7 linked regions of the Homo sapiens genome follow. The protein of the gene in region 7 interacts with the protein of the main gene of each other region in a biochemical or structural test. Each region holds a gene or a part of one and is shown on either strand. Other genes may lie near its edges.

Region 1 (4,850 bases), on a different chromosome or scaffold from region 7:
GGGAGGCCAAGGCGGGTGGATCACCCTGAGCTCAGGAGTTGGAGACCAGTCTGGCCAACATGGCAAAACCCTGTCTCTACTAAAAATACAAAAATTAGCTGGGCGTGGTGACACAGGCTTGTGGTCCCAGCTACTCTGGTGGCTGAGGTGGAAGGATCGCTTGGGCCTGGAAGGCGGAGGTTGCAGTGAGCTGAGATTTTGTCACTGCACTCCAGCCTGGGTGACAGAATGAGACCCCATCTCAAAAAAAAAAAAAAAAAAAAGGAACCTAAAGAGGAATCTGCCCTGGCTTATTGTCTGTGTAGAGCCACAGAAACAACAGAATAAGCTTGGACATAACCAGATCTACCATGGAAATCTTTGCACAGTGCCTGACACCTAATAGGTGGTTAATGACTGTTTGTTGAAGGGATGGGGCAAGGTGCTTAGCCTCTCAGTTTCATCAGACCGGGGATAACACCAGGGCCTACCTCATTAGGTTTTCTCTTTCTTCTAGAATTTACTAACTCATTTATTCATTTTTATTTTTTGAGACAGGATCTTGCTCCATCACCCAGGCTGGAAGGTGGTGACTCAATCATAGCTCACTGCAGCCTTGAATCCTGGGCTCAAGTGATCCTCCCATCTCAGCCTCCTGAGTAGCTAGGACTACAGATGTGCACCACCATGCCCAGCTAATTTTTAAATTTTTTTTATAGAGAAAGGGTCTCACTATGTTGCCCAGGCTGATCTCAAACTCCTGGGCTCAAGCAGTCCTCCTGCCTCAGTCTCCTGAGTACCTAGGATTACAGGTGTTAGACACCACACCTGGCCTAGAATTTATTTTTAATAATTTATATTTTCCTAAAATTGTCCACTTCATCTGTTTTTTAAGTACAGGTTTCAAGAGGATAGAGCCTGTGTTTCTGTGTTTGTCTTGCTTACTGTTGTGTCCCCAGTATCAGTAAATGACAGAACAGCTCCCTGTAAATACTTGTTGTATGAGTGAATGTGTGTGGGAGGAAGAATTATCTTGGAAAAAAGAAGGAAGCATTAATAGTGCCTCTCCTAATAGTGACTCATTTTTTTTTAGGCCACCCTGGGGCCTTTTCTTATTCAAAACATTCATGAAAAAAAGTGCAGTTCCAAAGCATTGGAGCTACTGATGTAACAATTTTTTTAAAATACCATTATTAGAAGTGCAGCGGGGGATTCTCTGATCTTCTAGGTATTCTGTGATCTCCTGTGATCTTCTGGCTGTGATCTTCCTCTGCAGACCACCTCACATCTTTGAGACACCCTCCTCTGTGCCTTCTCCCCCTCCCTATTTCTTAGGTTCACCAAGAATGAATGAAGAAGCCAAGCGCGGTGGCTCATGCCTGTAATCCCAGCACTTTGGGAGGCTGAGGCGGGCAGATCGCTTGAGCCCATAGTGCAACAGTTGTGTTGAGCCTGAGCAACATAGTGAGACCCCCACCCCCTGCCCGTCTCTTAAAAAAAGAAAAAGAAAAGAAGGAATGAAGAAACCACCGTGGGTCAGGCACGGTGCTAACCTCTGCAGAAGTTTCCATACAGTACAATGGTGTGCAATGCCCACGCCACGTTTTGCAGGGTCCACGGGAAGCCTTGCGGCGACCTCACTGCCGCCCAATTTCTGGGCAGTGGCGGCGCAGCGCCCCCTGGCGGCCATCCCGAGGGCAGTGCCCGCGGGCAAGGTTCGAAACTGTTGGCATTGGGACTGACTCCAGCCTCTGCTCCGGGAGGCCCTCCCGGGCTGCCTGACCTCCCGGGACCATGCAGAAGGCCTCCCACAAAAACAAAAAAGGTAACTGGGGAGAAGGAAGCGGGTGAAGAAGCCCTGGGGACCAAGCCTTCGTCAATGTTCCTCCTCTGTAAAATGGCAACGGTGCACTCTTGGCCTGGGAGATAACCTCTCTCCATCGTTGTTGTTATCATCATCATCATTATCATCATCATCATCATCATCATCATCATCATCATCATCATCATCATCATTTGAGAAGGAGTCTTGCTTTGTCCCCCAGGCTGGAGTGCAGTGGCGCGATCTCAGCTCACTGCAACCTCTGCCTCCCAGGCTCAAGTGATTCCTCTGCCTTAGCCTCCCGAGTAGCTGGGATTACAGGTGCCTGCCACCATGCCCAGCTAATTTTTTATTTTTAGTAGAGATGGGATTTCACCATGTTGGCCAGGCTGGTCTCAAACTCCTGACCTCAAGTGATCCGCCCGCCTTGGCCATCGTTATTTTTATCAAGGTATAATTTCCATGCAGTAAGATCCCCCCTTTTAAAAGTACAGCTACCGTTTTGACAAGCTATACCCACGTTGAACCACCCCCTCCATCAAGATAGGGAACAGTTCCACCACTCCCTAAAATTACTTTGCAATGCCCAGTTGCAGCCAAACCCCACCCCACTGCAGCTCCTCACACCCCCATCTGTTTTTTACAGCGTTTTTTTTTTTTTGCCTTTTCCATGGAGAACATCATAAAAATGAAATCACATAGTAAGGAGCCTTTAAAAAATTATACCAATGTAAATAGGGACTTTGGCCCTTTCATTTTTATTAAAAGGGCACATAAATCTTAAAATAGCATATGGGTCACTGTATTTTATTTTTAGAGACAGAGTCTTGTTCTGTCGCTCAGGCTGGAGTGCAGTGGTATGCTCCTGGCTCACTGCAGCCTCCAATTCTTGGGCTCAAGCAATCCTCCTGCATCAGCCTCCCATAGCTGGGACTGTAGGCATGCACCACCACATTCAGCTAATTTTTTTTTTTTTTTTGAGACAGAGTCTTGCTCTGTGACCCAGGCTAGAGTGCAGCGGCATGATCTTGGCTTACTGCAACCCCCGCCTTCCAGGCGGGTTCAAGCGATTCTTGCCCCTCAGCCTCCAGAGTAGCTTGGATTACAGGCGTGAACCACCACGCCTGGCTGATTTTTGTGTTTTCAGTAGCAACGGTGTTTCACCATGCTGGCCAGGCTGGTCTCGAACTCCTGACCCCAAGTGATCCGCCCACCCTCGGCCTCCCAAAGTGCTGGGATTACAGGTGTGAGCCACCATGCCCAGCCTAAATAGAAGAGATGAGGTGTCACTATGTTGCCCAGGCTCTAATCACTTTATACTTCTGCTAGCCCCCAGGTGGGCTTACTGAAGGATGCAGACTCCTGCACTGAGCAATTCTTGTTCTTTATGGCTTTTTTCCGCACAGCATCAGGATTTGATAAGACTTGAGGTTGGCAAAGAGGCTGAACTAGGCAGGCAGGTGCCAGACAGCCTTAGGCTTTTTCACTGCAGGGCTGTTGTCATTTGGACTGCTTGTCCTTGGGAAGGTTGACATTGCTGTCTGACTAGCCTTGTAGCAAAACCTGTAAGTCTTTCATATTTTAGTCTGGTGCTTGGGGTCTGGCTCTCCGAGGACCATAGTGCTGCCTCCTCCACCTGGTTGTCCCCAAACACAGCAGCTCACTCTTTTCTGAGCTCACCCTTTTCCAGGGAGGAAGCATTGAAGATCTCACTTTCAACAGCAGTAGGATCATCTTTGTCAGTACCTTCGGGTTCCAGGGTCCCTGCCACTGGGCCCTAGCGAGCACTTTCCTCAGGTTTCATGTCTAATAGTTCATCCTGAGCATGCACTGTGTGAAGAGCCTTTGCCTAAAACACATAAAATACCTTTTCCATCTTCAGTGTTTTCCTTGTCGTGGTTTTCATCCTCTAATGAAATTAATTGACTCAGCTCCTGCACTGTTACATCTGTGCTTTCCTGCTGGGTGAGCTTCTTTTCTTCTTTCTCAACTAGTTTTTTCAGAGGGTTTTGTAAGTGCTTTAAAGTAGTGACTTCATATGGCTGATAACCTGTGAAGCTCTCATGGATGGCTGCCATAGTGTGAGAAGTCTTCTCTCCAAAATGAAGCAGAGTGGTCTGGTATGTTGCTAGCATTTGAGACAGGAGATTGCATGTATTTACTTGCTCCAAGAAAATCTACATCCAACTTCACTTTGTCAAGGTTTTTTTCTCTCTCTTTTTTTTTTTTTTTTTTTTTTTTTGAGATGGAGTCTTGCTCTGTCACCCAGGCTTGTAGCTGGGATTACAGGCATGCACCAACATGCCCAGATAATTTTTTTTTGTTTTTGAGACAGAGTCTCGCCCTGTCACCCAGGCTGGAGTACAATGGCGCCATCTCAGCTCACTGCAACCTCTGCCTCCTGGGTTCAAGCGATTCTCGTGCCTCAGCCTCCCAAGTAGCTGGGATTACAGGCCCGCGCCACCATGCCCAGCTAATTTTTTGTAACTTAGAGACAGGTTTCGCCATGTTGGCCAGGCTGGTCTCGAACTCCTGATCTCGTGATCTACCCGCCTTGGCCTCCTAAAGTGCTGGGATTACAGGCGTGAGCTACCGTGCCTTGCACAAAGTTTTTTTTGTTTTTTTTTCAAGATGTACTTGTGTTTCTTGCCTTCCCGAACTTCTGCATTTGCTTATAGAGGTCTGGATCAAACTCCTGAGACATGTCCTTCTTCTGTAAGGAGCCTTTTGAGTCTGGCTTCTTTTACTTAACCCTGCTGACTTTTAAAAGTGGGCTCCTGGTAGCTTACCTTATAAGCATATTGAATTTACAAACTGAGATAGGAACCACTGGACCTTGCCCAAGATGTGACTTCTCTGTTTGCTCAGGAACCAGAGGCTCAGGCAGGGCGTATCCTGCCCCCAGTTGCTCCCAGAACCCTGAAAGGTCTCTGAAGATGGTATCTTGTTTATATTATGCTATTTTATTTTCCCAAACAGAGAGCATCTGTGGTTTGGGGGAAGGTGAGGTTGGAGATGGGCAAGGACATTTGCTTTAGAGGAAAGGGCC
Region 2 (4,303 bases), on a different chromosome or scaffold from region 7:
TCCCACTCATGTGCACTTCAAGGCTTACACTTATCGGTTGGAAAGTTGGTCTTTGCAGAATGTTTAAGGTTATCTTTCTCTTTCTCTTTTTGCCTAGCACATATCATTAAACTCATGTAAGTAAAATGCACGTAAGTTCAACAAGCATCACTTTGTGAAAGTGATGGTATAAATCTTGATGGTCATTTATTTAAGAAAGCAAAATAAAGCAGGACTCCTGGAAATGAACCTAAAGTTATGATATACCTTCTGGGGAAGGGCACTGCCTGGAATAGCAAAAGATAATTAGGAGGCCAGAGATCTCACTCAACTGCAGGGGCCAGGCCAGGTGTGATGTCAGAGTAGTTAGGGAGGGATGCAGTTGCCAGGTGAGGGAGATGTCATGCCTGCTCTTGGGTTGGAGTGTGGCTGAGGGGAGTGAGGGAGGCAGCAGAGCCTGGGCTGGATCCTGGGTGCTGCCTCTAGCAGGATTCTCTTTACACCTTACAGGCTCCCAGGGCTATCCTTGGGTATCCCCAGATACCCAGGGGTATCTGTCCACACTACTGTGACAAATCCTAAGTATTGTACTTCAGCTCAGATTTATCATCTGAGCTTCAAATCTGGCAGTCCGTTGAACTTGTTTACTTTGATGTCTTAGAGATACTGTAAATCCAACCTGCCAAAACTAAATGCAGTTGTCAGGAGCAGAGACCTGGGGCTCCCAGCTGTGTCATCAGGGCTAATGGAGACCTCAATATGGGGCCTGATGTTGGAGAACTGGAGACATGAAGGGACACAAACCCCAAACTTTGTTGTGAGTTTAACCGTAAGTAAATAGGACAATTATAATACCTTCATATTTCAAGCCTGAAATGCCCAATCTGCTTCTATGAATTTCCTCCTGAAAGGCAGAGATGAATTTGGTGGCCCAAGTCTTTAAAGGACAGCTGTCCAGAAAAGTTGGGCACAGTGTCTTTTCTCAGTAAACATTCTGTAGCAAGCAGAGCCTTCAGAATGGTTTCACTGACTTCAGAGCTGAACTGGGATTCCTCTTAAAAATACCCACTGAAGAGTTTCAGGACTTGGTGGGGACCCTGGTTCTGGGGTCCTGCTGGTTTGTATGGGAGACATGGCTGGCCAGGAAGCCCACGTGAAATCTCCAGATTCTCCTCTAGTTATCATCTGTCTATAAAAGCCTCCTTCTGTTGGACAGCTTGGTGGGCAGAGAGTGAGGGCAGGAAGAAGCTGAGATCATTACACAGAATCAGGGGGTGAGCAGAGAGCCCCGTGTACTCCGACAGCATCAGGGTCTTGCTGAAAGTCCTGCTACATTAGCCATGAGCTGGCCGGCCTTGAACCCTGGGTGAAGAACTCCACCTCTTTACCCATCATGTCCACATGCAAAACATGAGGCTTGCTGTGAAAGAATGTCTCTATCTTAATGAAATTCTCCAAATTTCCAAGTCTTGCCCTTTCCGTGAAATAGGCATACAGGCTTCTGGTGCCTCTTTATTCCCTATTCACCCTTTCCCTATGTCCACAGTTGAGCCCCAGGTCAAATCTCCAAGGGCAGCCTGATGGCACGTGCAAAAGGATAGAAGGAAAGGCAGTCGTTCTCCCAACTTGTGGTGGGATGATGGCCAAGATTTCACCCTTGGGACCACCAAGTCCCCCTGGACAAGTGGGGAGCAAATCGCTTTTTCTTTGGTTGAACCTCAGATGAAGCCTTGCCTCTTGCCTCTCAGGCTGATGGCTTCCCTAGGTCTCTGTCCAGGCAGAGCCAGTAGCTGGAGCTCCGAATCAAAACCAGAGGGCAAGGAGCTTATTAGAAGAGGTGGAGGGAGTCTACGGGTGGGAGGTGAGGTGTGGACACTGAGGCAGCTGCAGTGGCCAATGGACACACACAGCTGCCATCTTCCACTCCTCAACAAGGCTTAGTGAGCTCAGAACGGAGGGAAGGGGGTGCTGCTTGAGGTGGTGGGGACAGTGGTGAGCCTAGGCCTGGGCAATAGGCTAGATTTCCCATTCTTTGATAAAACTTCTTGAATGTTTCTTTCCCATGTTTATAAGAAAACACAGTTTCTACATGATTTAGCCAAGCTTAAAGTCAATTTTCCCTGCAAATGCTCAAGAATTAAAAATGTCTTTTGACAGTGAGTGTTCCTCTTCAGTCTTTGTAGAATAATTTCTTTTTTATACACTTGAGTGTGCATATATTTACATGAAATTCACTATTTCACATACCTTGTAGCTCTCATGAGTGGAAATAATGTCTCTTTCACAGTGAAGCTCAGTTTGGGACAGATGCTTCCGGCTCTACTGGGGAGGAGGACGTGCTCTCTGGGTATCTAAGGGTTTGTAGCTATTGGGGTGCACCAGAGCCAATTTTAAGAGAAAGAGGCAATGCAGGAAAGGAGAAGGAGAGCAGCAGCACATAATAAAGCCAACCCATTGATTTGGGTGGGGGTAAGGAGGCTGAGAAATGAGGATCCATGTATTTGCTAAATCTTTGTGCTTTTCTCTTAGATATTCCTTCTCATCTCCTCTAACCAGACTTTCGACAGATATTTTCTGAGCACCTTCTCTGCATGTCTGCAGTGCTGTGTAAAATGCCCTACCTTTGCATGGACTATTCTTTCTAATCAAGAGGCGTGTGTGGCGAACTTGGGGCAGCCCCTGGAAGTCTTGTTCTTTGACCATTACGTCTGCGGCTGCATCACCAGATAATGAGCTTCACCACTCGTCTGCCTCCTGTGTCCTTCCGCGGGGAGTAAATGTCACTTCAGCTTGCCGCATCTCTAAATAGGCAAATTTTCAGTGCTCAGAAAAGGACCTGATCTTTGCACAAAGTGCTTTGATGGTTGCCTGCTTGAGTCACTCCCAATCCCTTCCTGAAGCCCTTTCTTTATAATTCTTCTGTTGAAATAGCCATCATATTCACAGTACTAATCACAGCATCTCACATTTACTAAAAACTTACCCCATACCAGGAACCCAGAGTTGGGGGGGCTGTGTCAGAATTATGTAATTTACGTGTCCCAATAATCCTAGACGCTTCTTGACCATCTAGTTTTGTCAAATGAGAAAACTGAGGTTCCAAAGAAGTCAATAAACTTGTCCAAAGTCTGACCGACTCTGCTTGCCATGTGACGAGTCTGTCTTAGAACTGGGTCATTGCCCTGCTTGCAATGCTGTGCCCTCTGGCAAGCCCCCCCATCCCCCCGGTCTCCTGAGCTCGGTAAGGTGCTCCAGCTGCTTCTATCATAGCACTTCCTACATGGACTGTAACATTTCTTTACTGCTCCAACTTCTCATTAAATTGGGGGCTCCTCAAAGCCAGGGTTGGTGCCTTATAAGTTTCTTGCTTCCTGGTGCCCAGAGCAGCCTCTGGCATGAGCTGTTTGAACACTGGCTGAGTCTCACGGGCCTGTGTCGTGCAGAGTATTCTAAAAGGCAAGGGGAAGGTGGGGTGAGGAATTTTTTTTATCAAGGCTGGAAGAAACATGGGCTTCTGTATTCTAGTCCTGAATTGGATGGGGAGGATGGGGAAGGTGACATGTACCATCCATGTGGAGCCCCTTCTCCCACCTCGGAGGATGAAGAGTATCTTACCATCAACTCTACATGCCAAGGCCAGCTACCCTGTGAAGAATGTTTGGAGGCAGATTCTGGGACCATTCCCTTGCCACAGTTCTGCTCTTGGGGCACTGTCCCAGAGTCTTTGCCTCCAGAAGAGTCCCCAGAGAGTGGGAGTGAATGGGAAGACCTGGAGGAGCCTGTGGCCCTGGAATACGGTGCCCTCAGGTGGGTATCACTCTGGCTGGGTGGACTGGGGCTGAGCTCTGACCAGAGCAGGGCTCAGTGCTATCAAGCCACTTCAACTGGGGGTGGGGGATGGTCTGTGGGCATTGCCCAGTTTCCCCTGCATCTTCTTTGGGGGTCATGCGTCATTGTAATGGCCATTTTCACAGAACACTTACCATGGCCCTTGCACCATGACAACGACCTACAACATGGGGACTGTCATCACCCCCATTTCACACATGACACATTTGGGGCTTTCCCAAGGTTATCCAATAAGTAAGTGACAGAACTAGAATTCAAACCTGATCGGTTCCCCACTCCACGGCCCACCTGTCGAGCACCCATCTGTTCTGCCTCCTATGTACAGGAGTGTGCATCTCTCTCCTCAGGTCTCTCTCTTTTGGGGGTCTGAATGTCTAGTGCTGATTCCTGTTTTGCCTGCTCCTACCTGCCCCTCTGCTGGATGTACTGCAGAGAAGAGTCTTGGTGTCCTGTCATAGGGCCCATCTTGTTGGAC
Region 3 (4,168 bases), on a different chromosome or scaffold from region 7:
CTGGGCCCCTGGGCCCAGCGTCTAGTCTGTGGGTTGTCAGAGCTGTCTTCCACAGCCCAATCTGAAGTGGCAGGGATGTGGGGGAGGTGGTGGCCCTGGGGAGGCCATCCTGGCAGCACACCTGTGATGGACCTGGAGGGCTTCAGGGAGCCACGGCCTTCCAAGTTTCAGGTGGACTGAAACAGGACATGCAGAGGTTGCTCACACACTGATCGTTCAGAACCCCTTGGATCCACCCCCTGGAGAAGAGGTACCTGGATGGTCAGGCCCACCTGCTTCTAGGCACTCCACAGATAGGAGACTTTCCTCCTTTGTTTTAGAAACTGGGGGAGTCAGGGAAGCCTTCCCAGAGGCAGTGACTTTTATGCTGGGTTCTGAAGAGTAAATAGGAGTTTTCCAGGCAGAAGAGAAAGGAATAGTTCTCTTTACAGAGGAAACAACATGTGCAAAGGGACGGAGCAGTGTTGGGGACCGGGGAGATTAGTGTGGATGGTGTGCTGGAAAATGGAGCTGAGAGGTTGGGCAGATCACGCAGGTCTCAGATACTCAGCTAGGGTGTTTAGAATGTAACCCATAGATAAATACAAGTTTTTAAGCAGGGGGATGACATGGTTGGAAAAGTGACCCTAGCACCTCTACCGGAGGTTGGACTAAGATGCCACAGAAAGAACACAGGGCATACCCTGGGTGGTTCCCATGGGCCAGAAGACACAGTGCCTCAAGATCCCATTTTATCTTTTGGAAAATACTGTGTGTGTGGCTTTGTGTGTGCCCTTGTTCTGCAGAAGACCTGATTTTCCTCAGAAGTGTGCATCCCAATTCTGTTATGGAAATCAATGAGAAAACACCATGTGTTTCAACATTTTTGTTTGAGAGCCAGCCTTGCTGAAACACATCCGATCTATATAGGGACGGTCTGTCTTCCTGTCTCCTTTTTCTGGAGATGAGAACTAATTGACTAAAGAATTAAAAGCATACATCAGGGTCAAGTGTATGTGTGGCTCCTTTGCTCTCAAAAAATAAAAAACAATGAAGAATTAAAAGTTAGGACTAGGGGTCCCTTAAGTGATTCTTTAAAAGCCACAGCATATGCTGGGCGCGGTGGCTCATGTCTGTAATCCCAGCACTTTGGGAGGCTGAGGCGGGTGGATCACCTGAGGTCGGGAGTTCGAGACCAGCCTGACCAACATGGAGAAACCCCATCTCTACTAAAAATACAAAATTAGCCGGGTGTGGTGGTACATGCCTGTAATTCCAGCTACTCGGGAGGCTGAGGCAGGAGAATCGCTTGAACCGAGAAGGCAGAGGTTGCAGTGAGCCGAAATCATGCCATTGCGCTGTAGCCTGGGGAACGAGCAAAACTCCGTCTCAAAACAAAAAACAAAACAAAACAAACAAAAAAAAAACACAGCATCAGGGAGTCAGTTAGCAGAGTGGTTAAGGGTATAAGCTGGGCATTTGGCAGAGAGACCGATTCTGGCTGTGCTCTCTACTGGTTGTGGGTCACTGTGCACAGTGCTGAACCTCTCCGTGCCTCAGTTTTCTCAGCTGCAAAAGGAAAAGCCTCCTTTTGCCTACATCAAAGAGTTGTTGTGTGAATCAGTGATACGCCTGCCTGGAAAGGCACAGTGCCTGATACAGGGACATGCAATGAGGTGGAAGTGCCTGGTTTAGACACAGCAGCAGTGAACTCCCAAATGAGTGCCTAAGCCTGCTGCTGTCCCTGCGTGCTGTGATGTGACATCTCTTTGCCCAGCTTTCCTTCTTTCTTTAAAAGATACCACCAGGCCCCGAAAGAGCCATGAGAAGGAAGGAGTGGAATATCACTTTGTGTCTAAGCAAGCATTTGAGGCCGACTTACATCACAACAAGTACGTTGCTTGATGGGCCAGTTGGCCCTCCAGGCAGTTGTGTGTTTTTGTATCTGTATTCCACTAGAGCTCCTGGGAGGACTCCCGGAAAGGATGGGGGAAGCGGGAGAGAAGTCATGTTGGGAGGTCCCCTTTGCTTTGCTAATTTAGGAAAGCTGAGGAACTAAAGGCCTTTTCCCCTTTGGTGGTGTTTTAGGTTCCTGGAACATGGTGAATATAAGGAAAATCTGTATGGAACCAGCCTGGAGGCCATTCAGGCTGTTATGGCCAAAAACAAAGTTTGTTTGGTGGATGTGGAGCCAGAAGTGAGTTGCTGGGCCTGCTGGCCATTTCTGGTTAACGGAATTTATAACTAGGGGATTGTACATTTTACACAACACTTAACCTCAGTCTAAGGAATTTTTAGTCTAGAACACTGGCTGTTCAATTTCTTTGGGTCTTCCTTTGAGAATCAAATGAAAGCCTTGTACCCCAAAACATGCCCCTCTATCCACAAATGCTGCATTAATTGTAGGGAGCTTGTGGACACTCTGGTGGCCCACAGACCCAGGCTAGTAACTCCTGCGTGGAACAGATCATGCAATAGTTGGTGGCGCTGACTGGCCATTGCAATGTGCCAGAGAATTAGATGTCAGTACCCAGGTGAAACTGGGGCTGAGCTCTCGGTGCCAGGCCTCCCCCTCCCCAACCAGGGCAGGTGGAGTCAGTGGCTTAGAGAACCACTCAGGGAGGCAGTGAGGAGAGCAGTTTAAAGGGGAAAAAGAGGGAGGGAGACACGGCCCTGGGAAGTGCTTCAAAAACATTTCCACTCCTGCACACCCAGCATGCTGTGGACTCAGCAGGGGCTTAACCATCTTTTTAACCTTGTCTTTTAGAAAAACTTCCAAGCTTTGAACTCAATCTGGGGATTTTTTTTCCCCTCTATAGAAACAGATCTCTGATTTTATGCTATAAACTGTAGGCTTTATTTTAAAGAAGTTTGCTTGAAATATATTCCAAAAAGCACGTTATGCCTATAAAGGAAAACACTCATTTGGACTTACAGGGAGTTAGTGATCAAAATTAAAAGTCTGAGTTTCAAAATTTTCTTTGAAAAGTGATTTTATTGATCACTTTATTGATCAAGGGTGCAGATAATGCATATAGCAGTTTAATACTAGTGTTTCCAAGTGGAGCCCTTACTTCTAGATAAAATGCATTAATCAAGAGTACAATTTCTTTTTCTTTTTTTTTGAGACAGATTCTTGCTCTGTCACCCAGGCTGGAGTGCAGTGGTGCGATCTTGGTTCACCGCAAGCTCCGCCTCCCGGGTTCACGCCATTCTCTTGCCTCAGCCTCCCGAGTAGCTGGGACTACAGGTGCCCGCCACCACGCCTGGCTAATTTTTTGTATTTTTAGTAGAGACGGGGTTTCACCATGTTAGCCAGGATGGTCTTGATCTCCTGACCTCGTGATCCACCCGGCTCGGCCTCCCAAAGTGCTGGGATTACAGGTGTGAGCCACCGCACCTGGCCCAAGAGTGCAGTTTCTACAGTCTACAGTTTTAAATGATCTGTTCAGTAATCTCATTTGCTTTGCAAACCTTTTCTTCTTTGAATACCAAGAGGAGATGTAATAGCACAAAGTTTGTAATAATGTAGTCCGATTGATGACATTTGACTAAATAGATACACACTGACTCCTGCTTCCTCACCCATCAGAAATGGAAGGTGGAGAGGAGCCTGAGAAGGTTAATTATAGCCGGAGGAGTCAGAGCTAAGAGAGACAGCAACTGTCTCTGAGCTGAGGCTTAGGAACCTTCTGTTGGCAGTGAGTGTGACTTCAGGGCCCCGCTGAGTTCAACGTCAAAGTGAAGGATGAGAAAAGGAGCAGTTGGTCTGCCCAGTTGAAGTCCATTGTCATGGGACCCATGTAACCAGGACCTTTGCTGTTGAGGTTATGGTATTGAAGCACACGATTATTGAGCTTTCAAAAGTCTATTTCACAACAAAACACTTCAAAAGTATATAATATTCCTGAACTTTCTTTCTCAGGCACTGAAACAACTGAGGACCTCAGAATTTAAACCCTATATTATATTTGTAAAGCCTGCAATTCAGGAAAAAAGAAAAACGCCACCTATGTCCCCAGCTTGTGAGGACACAGCAGCCCCATTTGTAAGTTTAAAGTTGATTGTTTCTTTTCTGAAGGCCTAAGGGAGGCTGTTACAGGAACGCTTCTAGCTGCATAAGGGTGCTTGCAGCTGAAGAGGGATGCGGGACACACCTTCTACATGTGATTGTCTTTCCATTTTGCCT
Region 4 (3,676 bases), on a different chromosome or scaffold from region 7:
GGGGCAGGAAACAGGGATGGGAAAGGCCCTTGGGGGCTGGCAACCAGACCTCTGTGGGTTACTAAGGTGAGGTATGGGCATTGGGAGCCCTGGATACAAGTCCAGCTCTGCACCCATGACCTTGGTGACTTCACACTTTAAGCTTTCATTTCAGCCATAGAAGGGGGACCTGCCCAGCTGGGCAGCTGCCCCAGCCCATCAGTGCCCACCCAGGCCCCACCTTCTTCTTCTGTCTTCATTTCTCTGTCACCTGGTGACACTTCTGTGATACCTGCCTGCTGTGTCTAGCAGAGAGAGGGGACCAGGATGGATGGGTGACTCTCCTGGGTCCTTCCCACTTACAAAGCCCCAACCCAACCACTGCCTTATTGCCCCTGAGACTCTGTCATGGATTTGTACAAAATGAAAAGGTGAAAGTCACCCATCCCCAGTTGCACTGCACAGAGGCAACTGCTTTCTGTGGTTTGGTCCTGCACTGCTTTGAACATAACTAGTCACTGATGAAGCTTCCCTAGGAGCACGTGTGTTTTAAGCCACCATGGCCACCATTGTCAGTATCATACACCACATTCCTATGGGCCTTCATGCCACAAGGCTCCTGGGTGATCTATTTCAATGTAACCTGGAGAGTGTTCTGTGGACATCAGGACTGGGAGAAATTCCTCCAAAAAGGGCTCTGATGTCAAAGAGGTGTGGAAAACCACGCACAATCTGTCTACCTCTTGGAAAGCTGCAGTGCATGTTAGCACATTCAAGACTGACAAATCCTGCAGTGAGTAGCTCTGTTCAGCTTATAACTCAGCTTTCCCCAAAATTATTAGATCCCAGGCAACTCTTTCAGGAGCACCTTATTACAGCTTCATTTATTCAACAAATATCTACTGAGGTCCTATTTTGTGTCAGGCATTATGTTAAGTGCTGGGGATATTATGGTGAACCAAAAAGACAATCCCTGCCCACGTGGAGCTGACAGTGTGGTGGGAGAGACCATCAGTAAACAAACAGATTAATGATTACGAATTGTGGAAAATGCCAAATAAGAAAAGATTGGGATGCTGTGAGAGAATAGGCAAGATCTACATTCGACTGAGCGGGGGTCAGAGAAGCCCCTTCTGACATTTCCTCTCAGACCTAGAAGAAGAGAAAGCAAGGTAGGGAACAGCGACATGAAGCCTCTGAGGCAGGAGAGAGCATGGCAGCTCAGGGACCTGAACAGACCAGCATGACTGGCAACAGGGAGGGCCGGCTGGCAGAATTGACTCAGGCCTCATACTGTGCTGGAAATGCAGGTCTGTGTCCCTCTGTAATAACAGAGGCTCATCATCAATGATATCCAGGTTCTCCTGAGCTGGGGTGAGGGGGTGTGGAAGGGACAGGGACTAAATGCCCTTTGACTAGCCACTAACCAGGTGGCTAGTTTCCCCTCATGCTTTCTGAGTCCACATGAGCTTTCAGAACCCAGGCTCAGGTCTCTTCTGCTGTCTGGCAATGACCCCCCTTTGCCAAGCCCTGGGCCAGGCACGTGTCACATACAGCCCAGTTGGCCAATCAGCCTCATCTGCCTGCAGGTGGCATTGTGAAAGGGGACGAGATCATGGCAATCAACGGCAAGATTGTGACAGACTACACCCTGGCTGAGGCTGAGGCTGCCCTGCAGAAGGCCTGGAATCAGGGCGGGGTAAGAATAAGGCCCCTCCCTCCTTTCCTCCCTCACCTGCCTGCCTCAAACCCTGGCCTCTGCAGCCAGGTCTCACAATAGGATGCCTCATTCCAGGGTGGGCATCTGGAGTCCAGGCAACACTTTGGTGACACCATACCCCATCCAGCCTGTGGTTTAAATCTGACAAGATGGGATTCAGAAAAATAGATGTCAATTCCTGACCTTGGATCCAAAAAGCCAGTGGCTTAAACAGACTCTTGAAGCCAGGGCATGGCAGGTCACCCAAGAAAAAGACTTAAGGTCTTTTCTAAGTGCACACTGAACAAGAATCAAGAGAATTCTGGGGGCTACCAGAAAGCATTAACAAAAGCAGAGAACCCAGGATGAAGGAGGGGCTGGTGGGAATCTGCTCTGCACTCATTAGACACCCACCTGGATCACGGCCACTGCATAAGATTGCCCAGGCTGTGCACTACATAATCTGAGGGGGTGCCCTTTTACAGACTGTAGTGTGAATGGTGCCTGCTCATGGTGTGCAATGCACAACCTGTGCAACTGTATGCAGGCAGCCGAGCCTGAGGTATTAAGTTCAGTGCCGAGGAAGCTGACCAGATGGGCCTGGGACCCACATGAAGGGATGTGGAGAAGAGAAGACTCACGGGTAACATGATGACTATCTTTGATTATCTGAAGGTCTGCATTAGGGCAGAGGGAGCAGAAGTGTTCTCTCTGATTCTTGAGGGAAGACCTGGATTGGATGGAGGGAAGTCCTGGGGAAAGAGAGAGAGATTTCAGCTCAATATTAGGAACCAGCTCATGGTAGAGGGGCCCAGTGATATTTCCAATACTTTTCAGGGGATACACCTAAGCCAAGGAGGGAGAATGAGGGGCAAGTCAAGGATGGCAGTAAAAGGGATTCAGGTGTTAGGATCAAAAAGCTGGGCCAGAAGTCCCCCACTTGATTGTGCATCAGAAAGTGCGTCGGAATTACCCAGAGAGGTTGTTAAAAGTACTATTTCCCAGGACTCACCCTTGACTTCTGGGGGCCAAGTCTACGAGCCTACACTTTTAAGAAGTTCCCCCAAGTGATTCTGAGGTTGCTGCCTGTCCCCGGTCCATAGATTGACATTTGGGAGCTGAGTGTCATTCAAGGGCCTTGCAGCCCTGTCCTCTATGGTCCCGAAGCCTCAGAGACTAGAAACGTCCTCAGACCATGGAAGTCACAGTGGGCCCCAGGTGGGCCCGTGGGAAGAAGGTGCAGCCTGGCTGATCCTAGGCCATGGGGCCCAGAAATGGGGATGGAGTGCCGGGGCAGATGCACCATCCAACTGAGTGTGCCCCAGAGTCACACGGCTTCTCCCCACAGGACTGGATCGACCTTGTGGTTGCCGTCTGCCCCCCAAAGGAGTATGACGATGAGCTGTAAGTGTGTGCAAGCACCTAGCCTGAGACCTCTTCTTCCTTCTCCAGAATCTCAGCCACCTTTCTCCAGCCCATCCCCAGCCTTCTCCCAGCCTGAAGGAATGGCCCAAGCACGCAGCTTCTCATAGCCAGAGCTCCTAGAAAACTCCTGGACTAGAGCCAAGTCATTGTCCTTAAGCAGTGTCTGAGCTGCCTCCCGGGCAGTCTTGTCCAAATTCTTCTCTACTATGGGGAATTGAGGCATGAGGTCTTAGACCGGGTAAGCAGAGACGTTGGGAAAAAGACTCAGGATTGTTAATTCCCCACTCAGAACTTTATCCCCTGCCCCATTATTAGATGGTTAGAAGGTGTCTGTGTCCATCCTTCACTCTCTGGAAGGTCTTCCTGATGTCTAACTGCATTCACTCATACTGTGCCTCTAGGCAGCCGGGACCACAGGCTTTTGTCCCCACGCTGTGGGATCTCCAGGGAGCTTTGGCCTAGACTGTCTCTCTCTGTGATTCCCTGTGTGTCTGTCTCTTGTGTCCTGTGGGTCTCTCTGTCTTCTCTCCTCCTCCCTCTCTGTCTTTCTTTCACCCTTTCCTTCCTTCCTGT
Region 5 (4,168 bases), on a different chromosome or scaffold from region 7:
GTAAAAATAAATAAATAAATAAATAAAAGACATTGTCAGGCCTGGCGTGGTGGCTGATGCCTGTAATCTCAGCACTTTGGGAGGCCAAGGTGGGTGGATCACTTGAGGTCAGGAGTTCGAGACCAGCCTGGCCAACATGGTGAAACCCCGCTTCTACTAAAAATGGCACGCACCTGCAGTCCCAGCTGCTGGGGATGCTGAGGCATGAGAATTGCTTGAACCCAGGAGGCGGAGGTTGCAGTGAGCCAAGATTGCGCCACTGTATTCCAGTCTGGGCAACAGAGTGAGACTGTCTCAAAAAAAAAAAAAAAAAAAAAAAACATTGTCAATATAATGTTGAATTTTAAAAAGTCACTCTGCCAGAAAAAAAAAAATGCCTTGAAATGCAATCCATTTTTCTACCATGTAGTGATGGTAAGTAGATAGTGTCTCCTTTTTGTTCGAGTTTGGTGGATAGTTTGCTTTAGTGGAATGGGTCATTAATAACTATGTAAGCATTTACTTCACTGATCTCCAAAAAGGGGGGCATCAACTTATTGACAGTATATTTGAATTTAATGAATTGAGTGATCCGTATCTCAAAATCTTTCAAAGTAAATTCACAGAAAACTGACAAAATCATTTGTAAAGTCAAGTGTAATATGTTGTATTTATTTACTTTTTCATACTTTTTTCCTTTCTATTACATTGGAAAATATTTTAAAATAGCTACTAAAATTCCTTGATGGTTATAATAGTGACAGTTTTACTTACTAATGTTGATAGGAAATCTAACCTTTAATATTTGGGGAGAATAGACAATGGCATTGTGCATTACTCTAGCTATGCTGGAATAATCTTGTAATAGCTAATTTTTAACCTGTTGTGCTTTTTCTTGTACTGTTGCTCATATCTCTATATCTCGTCATATCTCTGTATAAGTTGAATTGCAAGATCATTGTCTTAGAGATGAATAATTATGTCATTTAAAAAATAGTCATTTATCTTCAGTAAGTGCTTAGTGCATACTACCTAGTGTTGCGGTGGGTATAGTAAACGTGATAAAAATGGTTATAAACTAGTTCATGCTATTATAGGGTTAGTCTTTCTAGGGAAAACAAAGAACACATAAAGCTTATTTTAGTGGCATTGGAAATATTTAAGCCCTTCAGTTTTGTGAGAAACTGGAACAGGAGAGATCAATATCTCTGCTCTGCTAAGGCAAACACCTGATTACTGTGGTACCGTATGTAATGCATTGTGACCTTAGCTTTTTTTTTTTTCCTCTCTCGTTGCCCAGGCTGGAGTGCAGGTGCATGATCTCGGCTCACTGCAACCTCCGCCTCCCAGGTTCAAGCAGTTCTCCTGCCTCAGCCTCCCACAGGCGTGTGCCACAATGCCCAGCTAATTTTTTTATTTTTAGTAGAGATGGGGTTTTGCCATGTTGGGCAGGCTGGTCTTGAACTTCTGACTTCAGGTGCTCTGTCTGCCTCGGCCTCCCAAAGTGCTGGGATTACAGGCATGAGCCACCACATTAGCTTTCTTAGCACACCTAAGTGTACTCCACCTAAATACCCAGTTTAGTGCTGATTTTACTTCTTGCACATTGGATTTCCTCCAGCTGCTTTGAATTATTTTAATTTCAGCTTTTAAAACACTTTAGATGGAGAATAATGTATTGATACATTACATCTTTGCTCTAGAAATTTGATTTATTCATTGAGGGGAGAATAGTCATTTTGAGGAGGCTATAATTTTTGTTTGTTTGTTTGTTTGTTTGTTTTGAGACGGAGTCTCACTCTTGCCCAGGCTGGAGTGCGGTGGCGCTATATTGGCTCACTGCAACCTCCACCTCCCGGGTTCAAGCAGTTCTCCTGCCTCAGCCTCCCAAGTAGCTAAGATTGTAGGCGTATGCCACCACACCCGGCTAATTTTCACATATTTAGTACAGACAGGGTTTCACCATGTTGGCCAGGCTGGTCTCCAACTCCTGGATTCTAGTGATCCCCCCGCCTCAGCCTCCCAAAATGCTGGGATTACAGGTGTGATTCACACCCTGCCGGGAGGCTATAAATTCAAATCAGTAATGTACAAGTATATTGGCTATCCCAAAAAGCCACAGTTTCTTCCTGGAAATAGCCAAAGCAGATCATTATAAAGTAGATTGTGTTGAAGGAGCATGCCTGATCAAATACTAAACGTTGACTTACAAGTATTACTAACAATCTATCATATGAGCAGGGTGGGGCTAATAAAACACTGTTTGCTAAGTATTCATTAGGCACTGTGTGGGCATTTCCATGCAGTTGCAATCTCAATAGTTAAAACTCCTATGTGGGAGAGGTTGGTATCTCAGTTTTACAGATGTGGAAATATGCGATTTACGGAGGATTAGTGATATAAAGTCCTAAATGTAAAAGGTCCTGGACTTCCAGAGCTCATGCTCTATTATTTCTTCAGAGATAAACCAACTGTTACTCTAAATCAGGGGTCTGCAAACTAGCTGCTGTTAGGCCCCTGCATTAAGAATGGTTTTTACATTCTTAAACTTTATATTTGACGTTGTTAAAAGAAGTACTGGTGGTGGTGGTGGTGGTGGTAATGGTGGTGACAGTGGTGGTGGTGGTAGTGGTGGTGGTAGTGACAGACCTTATGTACCCACAAATACTATCTGGCCTTTTACAGAAAAGATTCACTGATCCCTGCTCTAAACTTTAAAAAAAAACCCTAAAAATACACCCCCCTCAACAGTTACAATGTTTACCAAAAAAGAAGCTATATATGTGTACATTGAAAGTACTTTTAAGTCTTTGAGGGTCCTGTCCTTTGGAAACCTGCAGAAAATTTCTGCAGAAAACAAATTTTCTGCATAAAAATATTTCATTTAAGTTCATAGTTCCCTTGAAGCTTTTTTAGGGTCCTTAGACTTTAGGTTGAAAAATAAACACAAACAGAAGTATACAACTTTGTTACCGTAAACATAACTAAAACTAACATGCTGAAATCAATATTAACCACTTCATTATTTTGCTTACCTTCTTAAAATGTATATAGGATTCATATGGCTCAGGCGTTTCTAAAAATGCTGGAGGAGGGGGTAATCCCTCTCTCTATCCTATGAAGTGTATGTCTTTTTGATTCTTTTTTTTTTCCTCTTAAGATTTCATATAGCAGGCTGAGGGACTCTAGATCAATAGTTCAGTAAGAATATATGAAATTTCAAGTTAGAGTTCTTATTACTAAATACCTTGTTTAAAAGTTAAATACTGACTCAACATTTCTTCCCATGATATTCTCTGTTTTCTCAGAACAGTGTCACCAGGAAACAAGTATTATTAAATGACTTTGTTCTTACCTCAGAGTCATAGGACGTACTGACACTTTTTTGGCATGGCATCAGAGCACATCACACTTAATTGGAAAGTTTTAAAGCCAACTACCTGGTCATTAGCAGGTGTTTTACAGAGTAGTTTCAAAATCTCTCTTGCCAAATTGCTAAGACTGGCATAAAACTGTACACTTCCTGTATTTGTACTAGGGAAAAATGTGATATGCACGTTAATTATTTACCTTTAGATGAGCAGTACTAATTTTACTAGATATATATCAGATATTTTCTAGGTGACACATTATATTCTTTTCCCTTTCAAATGAGCGACAAACTCACTTTAAAAATTCAAGCTGTTAGAAAATATGTAGTATCAAAGTGAAAATCTTCTGTAATATCTTTTCTTAAAACTATTGTTAAATTCGGGAACTATTCTTCCATATTTTTCTAAATGTATTATAATTTGCTATTAATTTATAAAGGCAGGATCATACTCAATACTTCATTGTTAGCATCTTTTTTTAAAAAACTTACTGTATCTTGAGTTTTCTATATATACCTACTTCATTTGTTCTAACAGATGCTTATAATTACATTGACCATTAGTACCATAAGTTAACCAATTCCTTGTTAATTTTTCAGTTTCTCACTAATGTAAATAATGGCACCATAAACATCCTTCTACCTGTATCTCTGTGTAGATGGTAGATTTTGTTGGTTATTTTTGGCCATTTTTTTTTTGGCATATATTTGTATAGTATTGAGGAGCATAAAGAAGTTAAAAATCTCCTCTCCATTTTGATTTCATCCCCTGATATACCCATGTTAAGTTTGAGGTCTAAACCTAACTGTATGCTCAAG
Region 6 (3,500 bases), on a different chromosome or scaffold from region 7:
TGAGTTAGAGAAGAAGACAGAAACCTAAAACCAAAGCTTGAAAAGCTAAAGATTTTTCTGGATTAGAGCTAACAGCAGCAAATGTTTTCTATCCCAAGATAGTTGTTTCGGATAGTACAATATTTGTTTTAAAGGCTGTTGTGCATGCAGTTCAATGCCAAGGTAACTACACAAATAAAGCAAGATTGTCTGTAAATTGAGACTGAATAATATATGACATGTCAAACAGTGGGAAGTATTATAATATGAATGTGTCCTCAGAAAATTCAAGTGTGTTTTGGACCACTTGAAGTCAAATAAGTCAAATTTATAACAAAGGATTTCTCTCTAGTCTGTCAGTTACCACTACTTTTTCTTTTTCTTTCTTTTTTTCTTTCTCTTTTTTTTTTTTTTTTTTAAGAGATGGAGTCTTGCTATGTTGCCCAGGCTGGTCTTGAGCTCCTGGGCCGAAGCATTCCTCCTGCCTTGGCCTCCCAAAGTGTTAGGATTACAGATGTGAGCCATCATGCCCTGCCTACCGGTGCTTTTCTTAAGTAGATCTGCTGCAGTGAAAAGAAAATAGAAATTTAAATTGGATTAAGTGTAGGCTTTTAATCTAGAACTTGTTTCATATTTATGCTGGGTGATATTTCTCTGAACATAATGTACGTTGTCAAGCTTGGCATACTTACCTGGAAAAGCATTATTGCTCAACATGCTGTCATTGAAAAATAACTGCCTATAACATGAATGCTTTCTTTTTTGTAAGGACTGGGTTAAAGAGAAATGTGCAGTATCTTTTGAAGTCTGAGACTGTTAATTTCTGGCTTGCTCTTTGTTTGGCGTTTAACACCTGTCAGTTTGTCTGTTTATTTTTAAGACGCTTTGTATGTGGTAGTCGTTTCTTCTATGTGCTTTCGTCTTGCATGGATTTATGTCTGTATGGTTTCATGAAACTTGAAAATTTGGTCATGTGTTTTGGCAGAAGCAATTTATGACAAATTTTTTTGTAAGAATATATAGAAATAATCTTGTATGTGATTAAGCTGTTGAATCTGTTGCCAGTATTAATAGGAAATGAACACTGATTTCACATGAAGTTGTAATAAAAGACAATTAAGTCACCCACATTTCACTTATGGGTTTGGCCAAAAGATTCTGTAGAATTATAAAGGCTTATGACAGCAAAAAAGAAAGGGAAAAAAAGCCAATTTCGGTTATTTCTAGGGATTTCCCTCCACCCCCAGGAGACATTTGGCAATGTCTGGAGGCATTTTTTATTGTCTCATTGGGTGGGTGGGGGTGTGTGTGCTACTGGCAACTAGTGCCTTCATAGCCAGAGATACTGCTAAATGTCCTACAGTACACAGGAGTGCCCTACAACAAATAGTTTTCTGGCCCCAAAATGTCAGCAGTGGTGCTACTGAGGAACCCTCATTGAGACTATAAATCTATAAATGAAAAATCTACATCACATTGCCTTTTTATTATAGTGTATGGTAATTCCAAAGCCTCTTGCCCAAGTTTTAGCATTGATTGCTCTTCAGAGAATTCCTATAGTACCTGATGGAAATATACTTAGAGGTACATAAATCAGTATGTTCCTATCTCCCTCTGAAAGTTGGGGAGCCTTAACCCTAGTATCATGGAATTTCTGTTTGCCGTATAAGGCTATCCATGATTTTATATTTGAGAAAATTTGCCACATGCTGGTTCTTTTCGATCCTTACTCCTTAGATAGTCACCTATAAAGTTCCTGAAAGTGAGTTCTAAAAGGAAATGCCTTAAAACTAGCCAAAAAGTGACAGGAGCATAGTAGGCAATCTGCATAGTGGGAGAAGAGAGTAAGACTTTAGCAACCTTGTTTTATGATTGACACCTTCTTCCTTAAAGTTCCTCTTTTTCCTTCTAAATGTTATTTTTAAAAAATTCTATTCAACAGAAAGGCAAGATGCTAGATCTGTATTTTTTGGAAAAAATCCAGTTGCAGTTCTAAATTGGAGCCTTTCCAAATAAGGAAATACAAATGAAGCAGGACTTGTAAGAGACATACGATGTGATTTGCCAGCTAATCATCCTTCATTCAACACAACATACTAGAGCTGTGCAATCCTTCATAGTTTTCCCAAACAATTTTCCTGATGCTATCTTTGGTACTTATCTCAAATCTGTGAGGCCGACAGATAGGGATGTGGAGATAGAGAAACAAATATTGCCGCTTTCCCAAGGACATGTGGCTTGTGAGTGGTAGAACCAGACTAGGGCTTCGCCTCTGAGATAATTCACGTAGACTGCTTGGCGAGGTTGCTGGCACACAGTAAGCACTCAGAAGCTGAATATTATGCCATTAATGCTGATAAGGGAGGGAAGAATTCTTTGTGATCTGGCTGAGAGACTCCTTCCTCTACTACAAAAGTTCTGGATTTTATCACTGTGGTCCGGGGTGACCTCTCTGATTTGAAGCAGCTTGGAGAGTTAGCTTTTGGGAGATCCCAAACAATCATGTTTGCTTTAATGAGAATTAGTATATGGCCCAGACGGTTTTAAAAATGCTACCCACACAGCCAAATCCAGTTCTCATAACAATCCCTTCCTCACTTAGCAGGTGAGAAATGGGGGCTCGGAAGTGATCTGATGTGTGTTAGGGTGGGGTGAAAACTGGCACCATGGCTGGGCCTGCAGCCCTCCCTTCCTGGCTTGTTGCAGTGCCTGGCTCCAGCTGCTGTACAGTGTGTGCAGGCTTGATGTGGGTAACTTTTTGTACCCTAGGGAGTGAACTGTGCTCATGTTCCTGCCTTACACAGGGACTTGTCTACTCCAGAGTGTATTTGGTTCACTTTGTTCACATTAAGGACCACCTGTGTGCCAGGCTGTGCTCCGTGTTGGGGGCACCCAGGAGGAGGATGCAGCCTCTGTCTTGAGAAGCACATTTCATGGGAAGACACCTTAGCATTGCATGGTGTAGGAGGATTAGGGCCAAAGGAGAGCACCCCTGGGAGATGCTGGGCTTTCTAGCCTTCCTCCCATCAAAAGATTATTAAAATATTAGCATCCTTTTTTGTTTTTGTTCTGGAGTTTATGTAATCTCATGTGTTGAGTGTCTAGATACCCCTCATACCTGGTTCTTGAAAAATTTTTCCTGCCTCTTCTTAGTGAGTCTGTCATAGTATTAGTTCAAATAGCCTCATTCTTCATAGTATGACTTACGTGAATCTATATTCTCAAATTCACACAAATCAGCTTTATAAGTAGTCATACCTAGTTAGATATATTACATTAATAGATCCATCTATATTCATATATGTCCTCATATATTCTCTCAATATAATTTATTCCTTAATAGTCCTTAATAAATCCTATAAAACTTTCTTCATAGAACTGTGGATAGCCATAATAATCTTACAAAAAGAATTAGAAACATTTTAAGTATAGCAAATTTTGCTGGATTAAATGTGAGAAAACCTACCTCATTCTTACCGTAGACATTGAATGAGTATATCCTGCCTGCCTTGTGCTGCTAA
Region 7 (4,168 bases):
TTTCTGAACATCACATAGTACCAAATCATAACAATACTGTTAAGGATCTAATTTTGTCTCCTAATCTCCCTTTTTATGTCCCAGTTCTCAATGATTACAAGTTTCTCTAACCTCTAGGGCATGGTAAGAGGCTGCTTCTCCTTCTGACAGGTTTTTAACCAAGTCATTAGAATTAAAAGTATACAAGAAGAATCAAGAAAGTATAGGGAAAATATTCAGAATTACCTCATGGAACATATTCAAGGCCATGCTATTTGGGAAGTAGATGGATCCTGTTCTTAAAAAAAACATGTGGGGCTACTTCCGGTAATGGAGTTTGGCGGCAGCAGCAGCTCTGCACTGGTCTTAAAAGATCAGTCCCAGGATGATTAGGGTCAAGTTCAATAAAACAAAACAACATGCAGCTTAGCTGAGTCCAATATAATGATTCTCAAGTTGACAGATTAAAATGCAGTGAGAAGCTTGGGGAAAAGAACTGCAAGAGATTGGCCCTAGTGAAATTCCTTCCCCAGGGCTGGTGGTGACAGCATGTCCAGTCGTCAGTATGTGTTCTGGTAACCGGAAATGAAGCTGATGCAAACCAATAGCCTCTCCATGCAGAGAGAGAAGGGAAAGGCAACCCACTTCTGCTCAGCTGGTACACAGAAGGTAGGGGAATTTTAAAAGTCTACTCATAAAGTTGGTTAAGCTACAAATATAAACTGGAGCAATTGACTTCTGATGGAGAAAACATTTGATTACGCTGCTGTGTAAAAATAAATAAACTGCACTTATCGTTTTCTTCTATTCAGCATAGATGAAAAGAAATTACCTGTGACTGAGATAATGCTCCAGACCCTTTGCTCTCTTGCGAAAGAAAGAAACGGACTGACATGAGAAGCTCCTGAATGCAGCAGCGGAACTCCTCTTCGTTTTGCCCACCAGTGGCAAGGGAAAACAGCCTTCGAGATTGAACTATATACTTAAAAATGTATTCTTGTGCCTTAAAAATACAATTTTTAAAAGTTAGCTTCAAAGGAGACAAAGAGTATTTATTTAGCAATGACACGGCATAAAAACCATGGTATGGCATTAAACTTTTACATTATTCATGTAGACACCAAGGCCTTGTGAGGCTTTTTTGAACAGTATTTACTTTAAGGGGGAACAGCCACTTTTCTCTGATGCCTAATGAGAGAAAAAAAATTTAAAAACACTTTAAATTTAAAAGAAATTTAAAAGAAATAGAATTTTAATAGAAAATTTAAAAACACTTTAGCCGGGCACGGTGGCTCACGCCTGTAATCCCAGCACTTTGGGAGGCCGAGGCGGGTGGATCACCTGAAGTCAGGAGCTCGAGACCAGCCTGACCAACATGGAGAAACCACATCTCTACCAAAAATACAAAACTGGCCAGGCATGGTGGCCCATGCCTGTAATCCCAGCTACTTGGGAGGCTGAGGCAGGAGAATTGCTTGAACCTGGCAGGCGGAGGTTGCAGTGAGCAGAGAATGCACCATTGCCCTCCAGCCTGGCCAACAAGAGCAAAATTCCGTCTAAAAAAAAAATTAAAAAAAAAAAAATTTTATCATTCTGGAGTATGATGAACACTAAGTGTTTTTGACCCTCAGATGTTTTTTAAATTTAGTCAACAAAAAGATAACTGTTTTTTAAAAAATAATTTTGTTTTGACAGGTAGTACTCTTGCCACTTAGCATTTTACCTTCAATCAGCCCAAATTACAAATGAATAATTCACAAAATGCTATTTTATAAAATGTATACATTGTCTACTTAAAGCTACTGACACCAAATAGGATGGTCCTCAACAACAGGAATCAGAAGACTACCAGGGCTGTTACTGGACAATTCCTTTAAGAATTTGTACTCTTTTTCAACATGTTTGCAAGTAAGGGATTAGTATCTCCACAGACAACTGAGCATATGGTGCCCAGCGATGTGGGCAGCGTTAAGCCACAAGACCCGGTAAAGCCTCAGGTTTCCTCATTATAATCCCCGCTAAGCCACCCTATTTGCTCTTAAAATTTAACATAAATGGTTCTCCGATGGTCTCTGTCAGGTTGGTGGAAGCAAGAGCCAGGAACTTCTAAGCTTAACTGCCCCATATAGACTTCTCTCATAAACCCTCCCTCTCTCCTGCTCATCTTAGACTTCACTTCAAGTACTCTCCAGCCCAGAGGAACAAGGATTCAATCCTGAACAGTTTCCAGTAGACTACCCTGGCAAAGTCCCCTTCAAATTTCATCAGCTCTCAAGCAGTCACAAACTGATTAAGATCCTTGAATTGGAATGTCAGTAATACATCATCACCCATTACTGTCTGTGTAGAGGAACCAATTAGTTTAAGCATCAGCATGCAACAGCTTTGTTAGACTCTGCTGTTATCAACAGCATGTTATCACCTTCAGCACCTCCTGGATATGCTCTTGCCGCTCTGCTTCTGTGATCCGGTCCACGTACCATTTGAGCACTTTGATGAGATCTCTAAAATACAGGGGAAAATGTGCAGAATGTAAAATTGGTCTAATTCTCAATTAAATGCCAACAAATCCAACTCTTAACTATATCATGAGGAGGTTTCTTTTCCCATCAGTTCTCACATTTTCCTGTCAATCTGCTGTATAATAATTTTACTAAATCTGCAGATCAACACTGCCACCCTTTTCAAAGCTTAAGGGAGAAACAACACTCAATCTGGACATATTCCATAGCCCTGCTGTTTCTGGTAATGCCTCCAAATGGGTGAACACAAATATTGGAGAAAAGGACTGTGCCCAACCAAGTGCCTGGCAGTGTGAGTGCCATGGTCAATACTGTAAAACTGCTCATTGGGATTTCTTTCCCAGTGACCACGTAAACAGCTGGATGCAATATCATTAGGCTGCAGGCAAAACGGGGTGGGAAGGAGGGATGGAGACAATGCCTCCCCACTGCTATGCACACCTTATGGATTTATCAAGCCAATTTTCTGACCCATGAGAAGAACCTGGCTTATGTCAATATGTGCCTTAGGAGAATTTCTAGAAAGGCCAAGGTAATTTTTTTTCCTGTTTTGAAAAAATGTAAAAACAACAGCCCACAACTCTCAAGATGACAGTCTTACACCTTGAACTTTGGTCAGTTCTTGGTTTCTCTTTTTTCTTTTTCTTTTCTTTTTTTTTTTTTTTTTTGAGACAGAGTCTTGCTTTGTCACCCAGGCTGGTGTGCAGTGGCTTGGCTCACCGCAACCTCTGCCGCCCTCCTGGGTTCAAGCAGATTCTTCTGCCTCAGCCTCCCAAGCAGCTGGGATTCAAGTATGCACCACCACGCCCAGCTAATTTTTGTATTTTTAGTAGAGGCCCGGTTTCACCATGTTGGTCAGGCTGGTCTTGAACTCCTGACCTCAAATGATCTGTCCACCTTGGCCTCCCAAAGTGCTGGGATTACAGGCATGAGCCACTGTGCCCAGCCAGTTCTTGGTTTCTAGGAAACAGTTTACCCAGCAATGTTTCTCTGGGTCAGGGGAGAATACTTGGATGTGCCAGTAGGTAGATGTTGGTGGAGTGCTATTTTTTAAGATAACATGCTAGTGAGTTTCTGATCACCCCCAGCCTAAGAGGATTCCACAAGCCTTATTTGTCTTTTTAAGATCCTGCTTTCCTGGCCAACCGGAAGTGTGAGAAATTATACTCTTGTTTTCTAGCTTCCAAAGACAATTTAACTTGGAAGCAGTAACCTCCTCACACTAGGGCCCAAATTGTTAGGCTGAGTGGGCCGATGTTTCAAAACTATTCCTGCGGTTGCATTTCACTCTCAGCAAAAAATCACACTGATGAAGTGTCAAGTCTAACAAAAATACCTTCATTCATTTCGATGTTGGAGACGTCGATCTTAACCTGTCATGGCTGGGAATATCCAAGTAAACAGGATCAAATGCTTATCTGATAACCTATTAACCTTTATATATTACATAGATGGGGGAAGGATATCAACCTGATTTCATGCTTTTTAAACTCACCTCAGGGAACAGTCAGGCATGTGCATGCCCACAGGTGCTTAAGGTATAAGGTAGAAATATGGGAGAACAGCAAGGACCATATTGGACTGGGAGACAGACGATGGGGTACACTCCAAGGCTATTTAAGCAGTTATTTGTCGAACTAAAAGAGAGAAGCTGTGGCCTCTGGCAA

The links.
Region 1: the proteins of DOCK4 (region 7) and PDZD9 interact in a test that uses a peptide from one of them, tested with the Homo sapiens proteins (one large-scale study listed by IntAct).
Region 2: the proteins of DOCK4 (region 7) and FRMPD2 interact in a test that uses a peptide from one of them, tested with the Homo sapiens proteins (one large-scale study listed by IntAct).
Region 3: the proteins of DOCK4 (region 7) and MPP3 interact in a test that uses a peptide from one of them, tested with the Homo sapiens proteins (one large-scale study listed by IntAct).
Region 4: the proteins of DOCK4 (region 7) and USH1C interact in a test that uses a peptide from one of them, tested with the Homo sapiens proteins (one large-scale study listed by IntAct).
Region 5: the proteins of DOCK4 (region 7) and PDZD8 interact in a test that uses a peptide from one of them, tested with the Homo sapiens proteins (one large-scale study listed by IntAct).
Region 6: the proteins of DOCK4 (region 7) and LMO7 interact in a test that uses a peptide from one of them, tested with the Homo sapiens proteins (one large-scale study listed by IntAct).

Annotation. Positions count from the first base shown.
Region 1 is NC_000016.10:21,997,971-22,002,820, reverse strand, and holds the start of PDZD9 (PDZ domain-containing protein 9), read left to right. Parts: upstream 1-1,704; 5' UTR 1,705-1,773; coding exon 1,774-1,804; intron 1,805-4,850.
Region 2 is NC_000010.11:48,155,576-48,159,878, reverse strand, and holds the end of FRMPD2 (FERM and PDZ domain-containing protein 2), read left to right. Parts: intron 1-2,508; coding exon 2,509-2,557; 3' UTR 2,558-3,317; downstream 3,318-4,303.
Region 3 is NC_000017.11:43,808,815-43,812,982, reverse strand, and holds part of MPP3 (MAGUK p55 subfamily member 3), read left to right. Parts: intron 1-1,777; coding exon 1,778-1,871; intron 1,872-2,067; coding exon 2,068-2,176; intron 2,177-3,904; coding exon 3,905-4,027; intron 4,028-4,168. UniProt on the Homo sapiens protein: Participates in cell spreading through the phosphoinositide-3-kinase (PI3K) pathway by connecting CADM1 to DLG1 and the regulatory subunit of phosphoinositide-3-kinase (PI3K). Stabilizes HTR2C at the plasma membrane and prevents its desensitization.
Region 4 is NC_000011.10:17,496,164-17,499,839, reverse strand, and holds part of USH1C (harmonin), read left to right. Parts: intron 1-1,568; coding exon 1,569-1,678; intron 1,679-2,225; coding exon of another isoform or gene 2,226-2,321; intron 2,322-3,026; coding exon 3,027-3,082; intron 3,083-3,676. UniProt on the Homo sapiens protein: Anchoring/scaffolding protein that is a part of the functional network formed by USH1C, USH1G, CDH23 and MYO7A that mediates mechanotransduction in cochlear hair cells. Required for normal development and maintenance of cochlear hair cell bundles.
Region 5 is NC_000010.11:117,365,004-117,369,171, reverse strand, and holds part of PDZD8 (PDZ domain-containing protein 8), read left to right. Parts: intron 1-4,168. UniProt on the Homo sapiens protein: Molecular tethering protein that connects endoplasmic reticulum and mitochondria membranes. PDZD8-dependent endoplasmic reticulum-mitochondria membrane tethering is essential for endoplasmic reticulum-mitochondria Ca(2+) transfer.
Region 6 is NC_000013.11:75,810,830-75,814,329, forward strand, and holds part of LMO7 (LIM domain only protein 7), read left to right. Parts: intron 1-3,500.
Region 7 is NC_000007.14:111,867,173-111,871,340, forward strand, and holds part of DOCK4 (dedicator of cytokinesis protein 4), read right to left. Parts: intron 2,484-4,168; coding exon 2,402-2,483; intron 983-2,401; coding exon 812-982; intron 1-811. UniProt on the Homo sapiens protein: Functions as a guanine nucleotide exchange factor (GEF) that promotes the exchange of GDP to GTP, converting inactive GDP-bound small GTPases into their active GTP-bound form. Involved in regulation of adherens junction between cells.